Regions from separate parts of the Homo sapiens genome. Here all the other regions are linked to region 3. Evidence: fine-mapped expression QTL. A gene starts in region 3. Each other region holds a variant in brackets. All regions are shown on one strand. Distances are from middle to middle.

Evidence for each region. PIP is the estimated chance that this variant, and not a neighbour inherited with it, causes the effect. A credible set is the group of variants that fine-mapping cannot tell apart.
Region 1: its variant is the best candidate, but not a certain one, in a credible set for the expression of PIKFYVE in whole blood (INTERVAL, PIP 0.60).
Region 2: its variant is the best candidate, but not a certain one, in a credible set for the expression of PIKFYVE in tibial nerve (GTEx, PIP 0.57).

The regions. Positions count from the first base shown.
Region 1 is chr2:208,556,412-208,559,173 of GRCh38, forward strand. The region is part of intron 1 of LOC101927960 (a long non-coding RNA gene); the gene reads left to right. Among named protein-coding and RNA genes, the nearest start is that of PTH2R, 150 kb to the left of the region's middle. The variant T/A (reference allele first, on the strand shown) is at 1,451.
Region 2 is chr2:208,363,983-208,366,744 of GRCh38, forward strand. It overlaps a transcript of PTH2R not described here. Among named protein-coding and RNA genes, the nearest start is that of PTH2R, 41 kb to the right of the region's middle. The variant A/G (reference allele first, on the strand shown) is at 1,345.
Region 3 is chr2:208,264,587-208,267,348 of GRCh38, forward strand. PIKFYVE (phosphoinositide kinase, FYVE-type zinc finger containing) reads left to right here and starts at 1,669. Exons shown (of 42, transcript NM_015040.4): 1 at 1,669-1,829. RefSeq lists an enhancer at 1,506-1,555 and a silencer at 1,686-1,955.

The DNA.
Region 1 (2,762 bases), 290 kb after region 3:
GATTCAGGGGGTATCTGTGCTGACTTGTTACCTGAGTATATTGCATGATGCTGAAGTTTGGGTTATGATTTATCCCATCACCCAGATACTGAGCATAGTACTCAAATAGTTAGCTTTTCAACCCTTGTTTTCCTTCTTTCCTCCCCCCATAGTAGTCCTCAGTTTCTATTGTTTTCATCTTTGTGTCCACAAGCACCCAATGTTTAGCTCCCACTTATAAGTGAGAACATGTGGTATTTGGTTTTCTGTTTGTGTTAATTCACTTAGGATGACAGCCTCCAGCTGCATCTCTGTTGGAGAGTCAAATTACCTACAGTACCATCTAAATACTTGGAATCTGTCATTCCTGGAGCTGTGTTGACTCCCTTTTTTATTCATTTTGTAATTCGGAACATTTTCTTTTATTTTTAAGGGAGTTTGGGTTAGCTTTCTATCAATCGTAAACAAAGGAAACCAGTCGAAAGTAGTCACCAAATCAGAGTTTCTTGTGTAGATTATATTGATTATCTATTACTTACATTACAAATGAACAATAAATTTCAGGCAGCATTTTGCTTACATATCTGCAGGTTGACAGGGACCATCTGATCTAAGCTAACTGGCTGGCAGCTCTGATGATTTGGCTGGGCTTTATCACCCACTGGGGTTGGGGGTGGAGGAGATGTGGCTGATTAAGGTTGGGTTTGGCTGGACTAACTTGGCTCTGCTCCAGTGTCCCATTCTTCTCCTGAGGCCTGCTTGCTAAACCAGGCATGTTGTTCTTATGATAATATAACTGCCCAATGGGTTCATCTTGCCTGCTTCCTGGATAGAGCTGATTTATCAAGACAGGATAATTGCAATAGAGAAAGAGTTTAATTCACACAGCTGGCTGAACGGGGGACTGGAGTTTATTACTCAAATCAATCTCTCTGGAAATTAAGAGGCCAGGGTTTTTCAGGGATAGTTTGGCAAGCAAAGAAATGGGTGTTGCTGATGTTAGGGAATGCAATCACAGGGGCGTGGAGAACGGTCCTTGTGAACTGAGTCCACTTCTGGATGGGGGCCACAGAACTAGTTGAGTCAAGTCTTGGGCCTGAATGGGGCTAGTCAGTCATCAGAAATGCAAAAACTTGAAAAGACATTTCAAAAGGCCAATCTTGGGTTCTACAATAGTGATGTTATCTGCAGGAGTAATTGGGAGTAAGTTGCGAATCTTGTGACATCTGGGGTAATGCCTGGTAATCATTTGCGTCTACATCTTAGCAGAATTCCGGCTCCTCTCATTCTCCTAAACTGGTGATCTTTCATTAGTTTTACAAAGGTGGTTTAATTTTGGGGTAGAGCTGTTATCATTTAAACTATAAATTAAATTTCTCTTACAGTTAGCTTGGCCCAAGCCCAGGAATGACCAAGGGCAGTTTGGAGTTTAAAGGCAAGATGAAGATTGGTTAGATCAGATCTCTTTCAC[T/A]GTCATAATTTTCCCACTGTTATAATTTTTTGCAAAGGCAGTTTCAGTAATAGCAGAGGTGCCAGCGTGCAGACTTGATCACACAAGTGCTTTTCAAGCCTGTGCCTCTGCCGCATCTGGTAACATCCTATGAGCCAAAGCAGGCCAGGTCATGTGGCTCAAAAGAAATCAGGGAGTGGGGGAGTATGCCCCATTTACAGTGGAAAGGTGCCGCATACTTACATGGCAAAGGTGTGGAGGAAGAGGAGAACCGAAATATTTATCTAATCTAGCGCTAAACAATGAGACTAGGAAATGTGACTTTTTAATCGTCACCCCAGGTGATTCTAGGCACGTTAAAGTTTGGGAAACACAGCTTAGAGCTGTAGTCCTCAATGCTAGCTAAATCATCTGGGGCTTAAAACATTCTGTTGCTTATATCCCAATCTCCACCTCTCTCAAAGATATTTTGATTAATAGGACCTGGGAATTAGTATTTTAAAGAAAATGGTCCTAGTTAAGAACTACTCTCCTAGAAAAATTTGAGTTCCAGTGGAAATCACTGTTATGCTTCTTATTTGCTGATATTTTTCTTTCTTTCTTTCTTTCTTTCTTTTTTTTTTTTTTTTTTTTGAGACGGAGTCTCGCTCTGTCGCCCAGGCTGGAGAGCAGTGGCGCAATCTCGGCTCACTGCAAGCTCCGCCTCCCGGGTTTAAGCCGTTCTCCTGCCTCAGCCTCCGGAGTAGCTGGGACTACAGGCGCCCGCCACCTCGCCCGGCTAATTTTTGTATTTTTAGTAGAGAAAGGGTTTCACCGTGTTAGCCAGGATGGTCTCCATCTCCTGACCTCGTGCTCCGCCCGCCTCGGCCTCTCAAAGTGCTGGGATTACAGGCGTGAGCCACTGCGCCCAAACCGATATTTTTTATGGAGATGAAATCAGAGGAAAGGCTGAATGGAAAACCAAACCTTATAAAAGCAGTACTTAAAGACTAGTCTACACTTTGGGAGGCCAAGGCAGGGGGATCACCTGAGGTCGGGAGTTTGAGGCCAGCCTGGCCAACATGGAGAAACGCCGTCTCTACTAAAAATGCAAAATTAGCCGGGCGTGGTGGCGCGTGCCTGTAACCCCAGCTATTCAGGAGGCTGAGGCAGGAGAATCGCTTGAACCCGGGAGGCGGAGTTGCGGTGAGCTGAGATCGCGCCATTGCACTCCAGCCTGGGCAACAAGAGCAAAAACTCTGCCTCTAAAACAAAACAAACAAACAAAAAAGACTAGTCCATAAACCAGTCTTTATACAGTATCTCCTCTGTGCTGGGTGTTGTGCTTGGCACT
Region 2 (2,762 bases), 99 kb after region 3:
CTTTTGCTATGCAGAAGCTCTTTAGTTTAGTTAGGTACTACTTGTCAATTTTTGTTTTTGTTGCTTTGTCCATTTTAAAAAATAGAGTAATTTGATTATTTTGTTGTTGAATTGTAGGAATTCTTTATATATTATGGATGCTAACATCTTATCAAATATGATTTGCAAAACATTTTCCCTCATTCTGTAGGTTGCCTTTTCACTATTGTGTCCTTCAATGAACAAAAGTTTTTATGTTTGATGCAGTCCCATTTGTCCATTTTTTTTGGTTGCCTGTGATTTTGGTGTCATATCCAAGAATGTGGAATGTGTCATATCCACATTCAATGTCCTGACGATTTTTTTCTATGTTTTCTTCCAGAAGTTTTATTGCTTTGGGTCTTTGGTTTAAGTCTTTAGTCCATTTTGAGTTAATTTTTGTATGTGGTGTAAGAAACAGGTCCAACTGCATTGTTTTGCATGTAAATATCCAGTTTTCCCAGCATCATTTGTTGACCAGACTGTCCTTTTCCCATTTAGTGCTGTTGGAGCTCTTCTTGGAGGTCAGTTGGCCATGTGTACACAAGTTTATTTCTGGGCTCTTTATTCTGTTCTATTGATTTGTATATCTGTCTTTATTCCAGTACCACACTGTTTTATTCTTCTTTTTCAAAATTGTTTGACTCTTAGGGCCCTTTGAGATTCCATATCAATTTTAGGATGAATTCTTCTATTTCTGCAACAAATGCTATTGGAATTTTGATAAGGATTGAATTGAATCTGTAGACTGTTTTGAGTGATATTAACATCTTAATAATATTAAGTCTAATCCATGAATGTGAGATGTTTCTATTTATTTATCTCTTCTTTGATTTCTTTCAGTAATGTTTTATAGTTTTCATTATATAAGTTTTTACTTCCTTAGTCAATTTCTAAGAATTGTTTTCTTTTTGATGCCATTGCAACGGGAATCATTTTCTTAATTTTTTCAGATGCTTTCACTATTTGTGTATAGAAATGTAACTGATTTTTTGTATGTGTGTTGATTTTGTATCTGGTAACTTTACTGAATTTTTAAATTTGTTCTAACCTGTTTTTTTTTTTTGGTGGAATCTTTAGGATTTTCTGCATATAAGATCATGCCATCTACAAACAGAAATTTTTACTTCTTTCTTCCCAATTTGGATGCCTTTTATTGCTTTTTCTTGTCTAATTGCTTTGGACTGGAGTTCCAATACTCTGTTGAATAGAAGTGTCCAGAACAGACATTTTTGCCTTGTTCTTAATCTTAGAGGAAAAGCTTCCAGTTTTTCACTGAGTATGCCGTTAGCTGTGGACTTTTCCTAAACAACCTTTATTATGTGC[A/G]GGTAATTTCCTTCTCTTTCCACTTTTGAGTGTTTTTTTTCTTTTCTTTTCTTTTTTTGTGTGTGAAAGGATATTGAATTTTGCCAAATGCTTTTCCTGCATCAGTGGAGATGGTCATGTGGGTTTTGTCCTTTATTCTGTAAATGTGGTGTACTACATTGATTTTCATATGTTGAACCATCCTTGCATCCCAGGGATAAATCCCACTTGATCATGGTGAATGATCTTTTGAGTGTGCTGTTGAATTTATTTTGCTAGTATTTTTTTGACTACGTTCATCAGACATATTGGGTAATTATTTATTTTTTCTTGTAGTATTTTTGCCTAGCTTTGATATCACACTAATGCTGCCCCTCAAAGAATGACCTTGGAAGTATTCCTTTCTCTTCAGTTTTTGGGGGATTGATGTAAATTCTTTTTTTTTTTTTTTTGGAGACAGGGTCTCACTGTCACCCAGGCTGGAGTGCAGCGGCACAATCATAGCTCACTGCAGCCTCTAACTCCTGGGCTCAAGCAATTCTGCTTCAGCCTCCTGAGTAGCTGGGACTATAAGCATGTGCCACCATGCACAGCTAATTTATATATATATAATATAATAGATAAATATATATATATATATATATATATATATATATTTTTTTTTTTTTTTTTTTTTTTTTTTTTTTTTTTTGCAGAGACAAGGTAGGTCTTGCTATGTTGCCCAGGCTGGTCTCAGACTCCTAGGCTCAAGTGAACCTCTCACCTCAGTCTCCCAAAGTTCTGGGATTACAGGCATGAGCCACCACGTCTGGCCAGTGTTAATTCTTCAATATTTGGTAGAATTCTTCAGTGAAGTCTTCTAGTCCTGGGCTTTTCTTTGTTGGGAGGTTTTTAATTACCAACTCAATTTCCTTACTAGTTATTGGTCTATTTATATCTTCTATTTCTTCATGATTCAGTCTTGGCAGGTTTGGTGTTTCTAGAAATTTATCCATTTCTTATAGGTCATCCAGTTTGTTGGTATAGTTCATAGTCTTCTCTTATAATCCTTTCTTATCTGTAGCTCAGTACCTCCTATCTGGAGATGCAGAATTAGGAATTGAAACTATAATAGGCCCCCCTTTTATAATGGGGTGTCCTTATTTTTACCTTCTCACCTTGCAATACCCTTGTCTTGCTAGTAAAGAAAGAAGGGAAATTTGATTCAGGAGGTAATCATACTTTTCAATTTGTACAAGATCTAATAGCCATGAACTCCTATGTCATTCCTCACCATCCCATAATTCTTAGCCCAGCCATCATCCTTACCTCAATCCCTGCTGGTGCAGCCTGGTTTATTCTGTTAATGTGCTGTACTGCATTGAGGTAAGGACTTCTGCTCAGCTTTCTTCTTGATACCATTGTACCTTGATTCACACTTCCTCTTGTGAAATAAAGTT
Region 3 (2,762 bases):
ACATGGACTGTGTAATGTTCACATATATTTTTATTTTTTAGGCTAGTCAAGTGAAGCAGTGGGATACGTTCATAATTCTATCCTTAGTGTAGTGCTTCTATAACTAACACACTGCAGGTTAAATTAGGGACTCAAAAATATTTGCGGAGTGCACTTTTTTTTTTTTTTTTTAAACCATAGATGGAGTTTCTACATACACTGCAGTCGTCGTGGCTGGGCAATTTATTCTTTTCATATGATCTCTGTACCTATTTCATACTTTATTGTAGGTTTATGAAATATTAACATAGGGTGATAATTACGAGGGCCTTTTTTGCTTATCTTAAATTTTTAAAAAAAATTTTTTTAAAGGAAGGCAGAGACTTGAGCATCTTTATGGGCTGAGGAGGCAGAGTCATTGGAAAAGGGGAGGTTGCAGATACGGTGCAAGCTCCCAGACAGGAGAGGGTGAATTGGGGGCCAAAAGGATTGAGCTGGGGAAGAAGAGGCCCCTTCCTCAGAGAGATGAGGGAGAAAGGCAGACCAGGGCAGATGTGGATGTAGGTAAATGTTGTGGTGTGTGGGGAATTAGCTTGTTAAGGGTCACGCCCAGATACCTTGGGATTTTTCACGTGGGTATAAAATATGATTCTCTGATGAGAATGATGGTCAAGGTAATGTGGGGGTCGTGGTGGTGGTCTGACGCAGCAGTAATAAGGAATGGGAGAAGCTGACTACAGACTCCCAGAAAGATTGCTGAAGGGCCCAGCTGAGGATGGTGACTGGGATTTGCACTGGACTCAACCTGCAGGTTTCGATGGTGCTTTCCAACTCCAGGAAAACTGGGCTGGGATTTGACAAAACTCTTGAGGAAAAGGACTCACAGAATTTAAAACTGCATTTCCCTTTAGGTTTCGTCTGCTTTCCATCCTCCCCTACCAAGCCCCACAACTGCGGCGAGCATGTTTTCTGCAGTTAACTGCACTGCGCTCTCAGCAGGACAGAAATGACGAATAACTCTAGCCAAGCTGAACAAGATAGGGCTTGGGCTTGGTAACTTTATTTGCATCAGCATTTGCAACACAACACCTAAATGAAAAAATTAACTATAAAGCCGACATCACTTACTCTGGGTCAGGGAACTGTGCCATTCGCTTTAAGTGCATTTACTTAATCTCAAAAAAGTATTAAGAAGTGAGTCCTTTTATTAATCCGACTTTACACACCAGAGGTCTAAGGCCTAAATAAATGAGCAATTTGCTTAAGATCATATGGCTGGTTATTGGTGGAGTCATGCAAGTCTGGAAACAGAGTCATCGCTAACTCCGGTTCAGTGCTACACGAGTGAACTGTCTACAACAAAGCAATAACATATTATGAGTGCCCACAGTATCGAACACATACGGTAACCGCAGTCCAGCCAGCACCCCTGCAGTGCCCAGAGCACCAAGCACCCATCCGTTGACCCCGCATGCGTGACGCTCACGCGCGCAGTCCCCCTGGCTTCTTCCAGGAAGGCTGAAGCGGCCTAATCTCGGCCAAAAGATCAGGACGACTCGATCTGGGCTGGACTCCTTCTGCCTGAGCATCTGATCCGAGCGTCGGCCGGGCTGGGAGGAGCCGGCCCCCGGGAAAGATTTCGGACTGGGGGACAGGAAAACAGAGGGCGGAGTCTTGGGGGGGGGAAGCGAGAAGCCGCATCAACCATGTAAGCAGCTTCGCTTCCTGCCGCAACCGTCCGCGGCCTGAGGAGCCCACCGCCGCTCTCGGGGGCCGACTTCCGGGGGCTGAGCCGTTGAAGCGGAGGCTGGGGCGGGGGGCAGCCGGCGCGGCCGGGGCAGGAGGCGCAGGTAAGGGAGGGGGCCTGGAGCTTGGCCGGCTGGGGCTCAGCATGGGAAGGAGGCCGGTATGGGGAGCTCCAGGGCCAGAGCTGAGGTGAAAGTGAGAACCAGGGCTCCGCAGTCGGGGGCTAGGGCCTGGCTGCCGGCTGAGCAAGGAAGGGCAGAGAATCTGGCTTTAGAATTAGCTTGTCCTCCCTATTCCCCGGCTGCCTTGTCTGGCGAGTGGGGACGGAAGCCGGGTGGGGCCCTTGAGATTTCCTTGGAAACATTTGAAGTTCCTTTGCCTCTCTCTCGACCCTTACGCCTGAACTTAATTAGGAGGGGAAGAGTACAGTTACTTTTCCCTCTGAGTGCATGAGTTCTGAGTTTGTCAGAGGCGCATCCGTAGGCTGGAAAAGAAAGTTCATGAGCTGCAGAAACGATACCAACCGTGGGGGTTCAAATAAGTGTTTGTCTTTTTAAATGCTTGCCTCTGCTATTTGAGACGATTCCATTTCAACTTAGGTTTTGGAGTTTCTTGAGGAGGAGCATTATTTCCCAATTAGTGTTTACCCTTTGCTTAGAATGTTCCCAACAAAAGGATGAGAATGGAATGTGTTGGAAACTTTTAGGACTTAGGGGTTTTCTGCCCAATCAGAGGTTATTCCTAAGACAGTCAAGAAATATAAGAAGTGCTAGAATTCTGTATAAAGCAAGTTATTCGTGTGTATCTGATGTGTATACATGATTCATTATCTACTATTGACGCAGTGCATCCTGTGTTGTAAAATATGTCCAGTGTTGACAATAGAGGTAGTCGCTTGGTATAATGTACTTATTTCTGATTTATTTGAGCCCCTTTTTTGGCACTCCAAAACTCCCACTCTGTCAGTTTTCTTACAAAAAATGTTCTTTCTTTTGTGTTTGTGACAAAGATTGTGTAGGTTAAATCTCTTCTGTGGA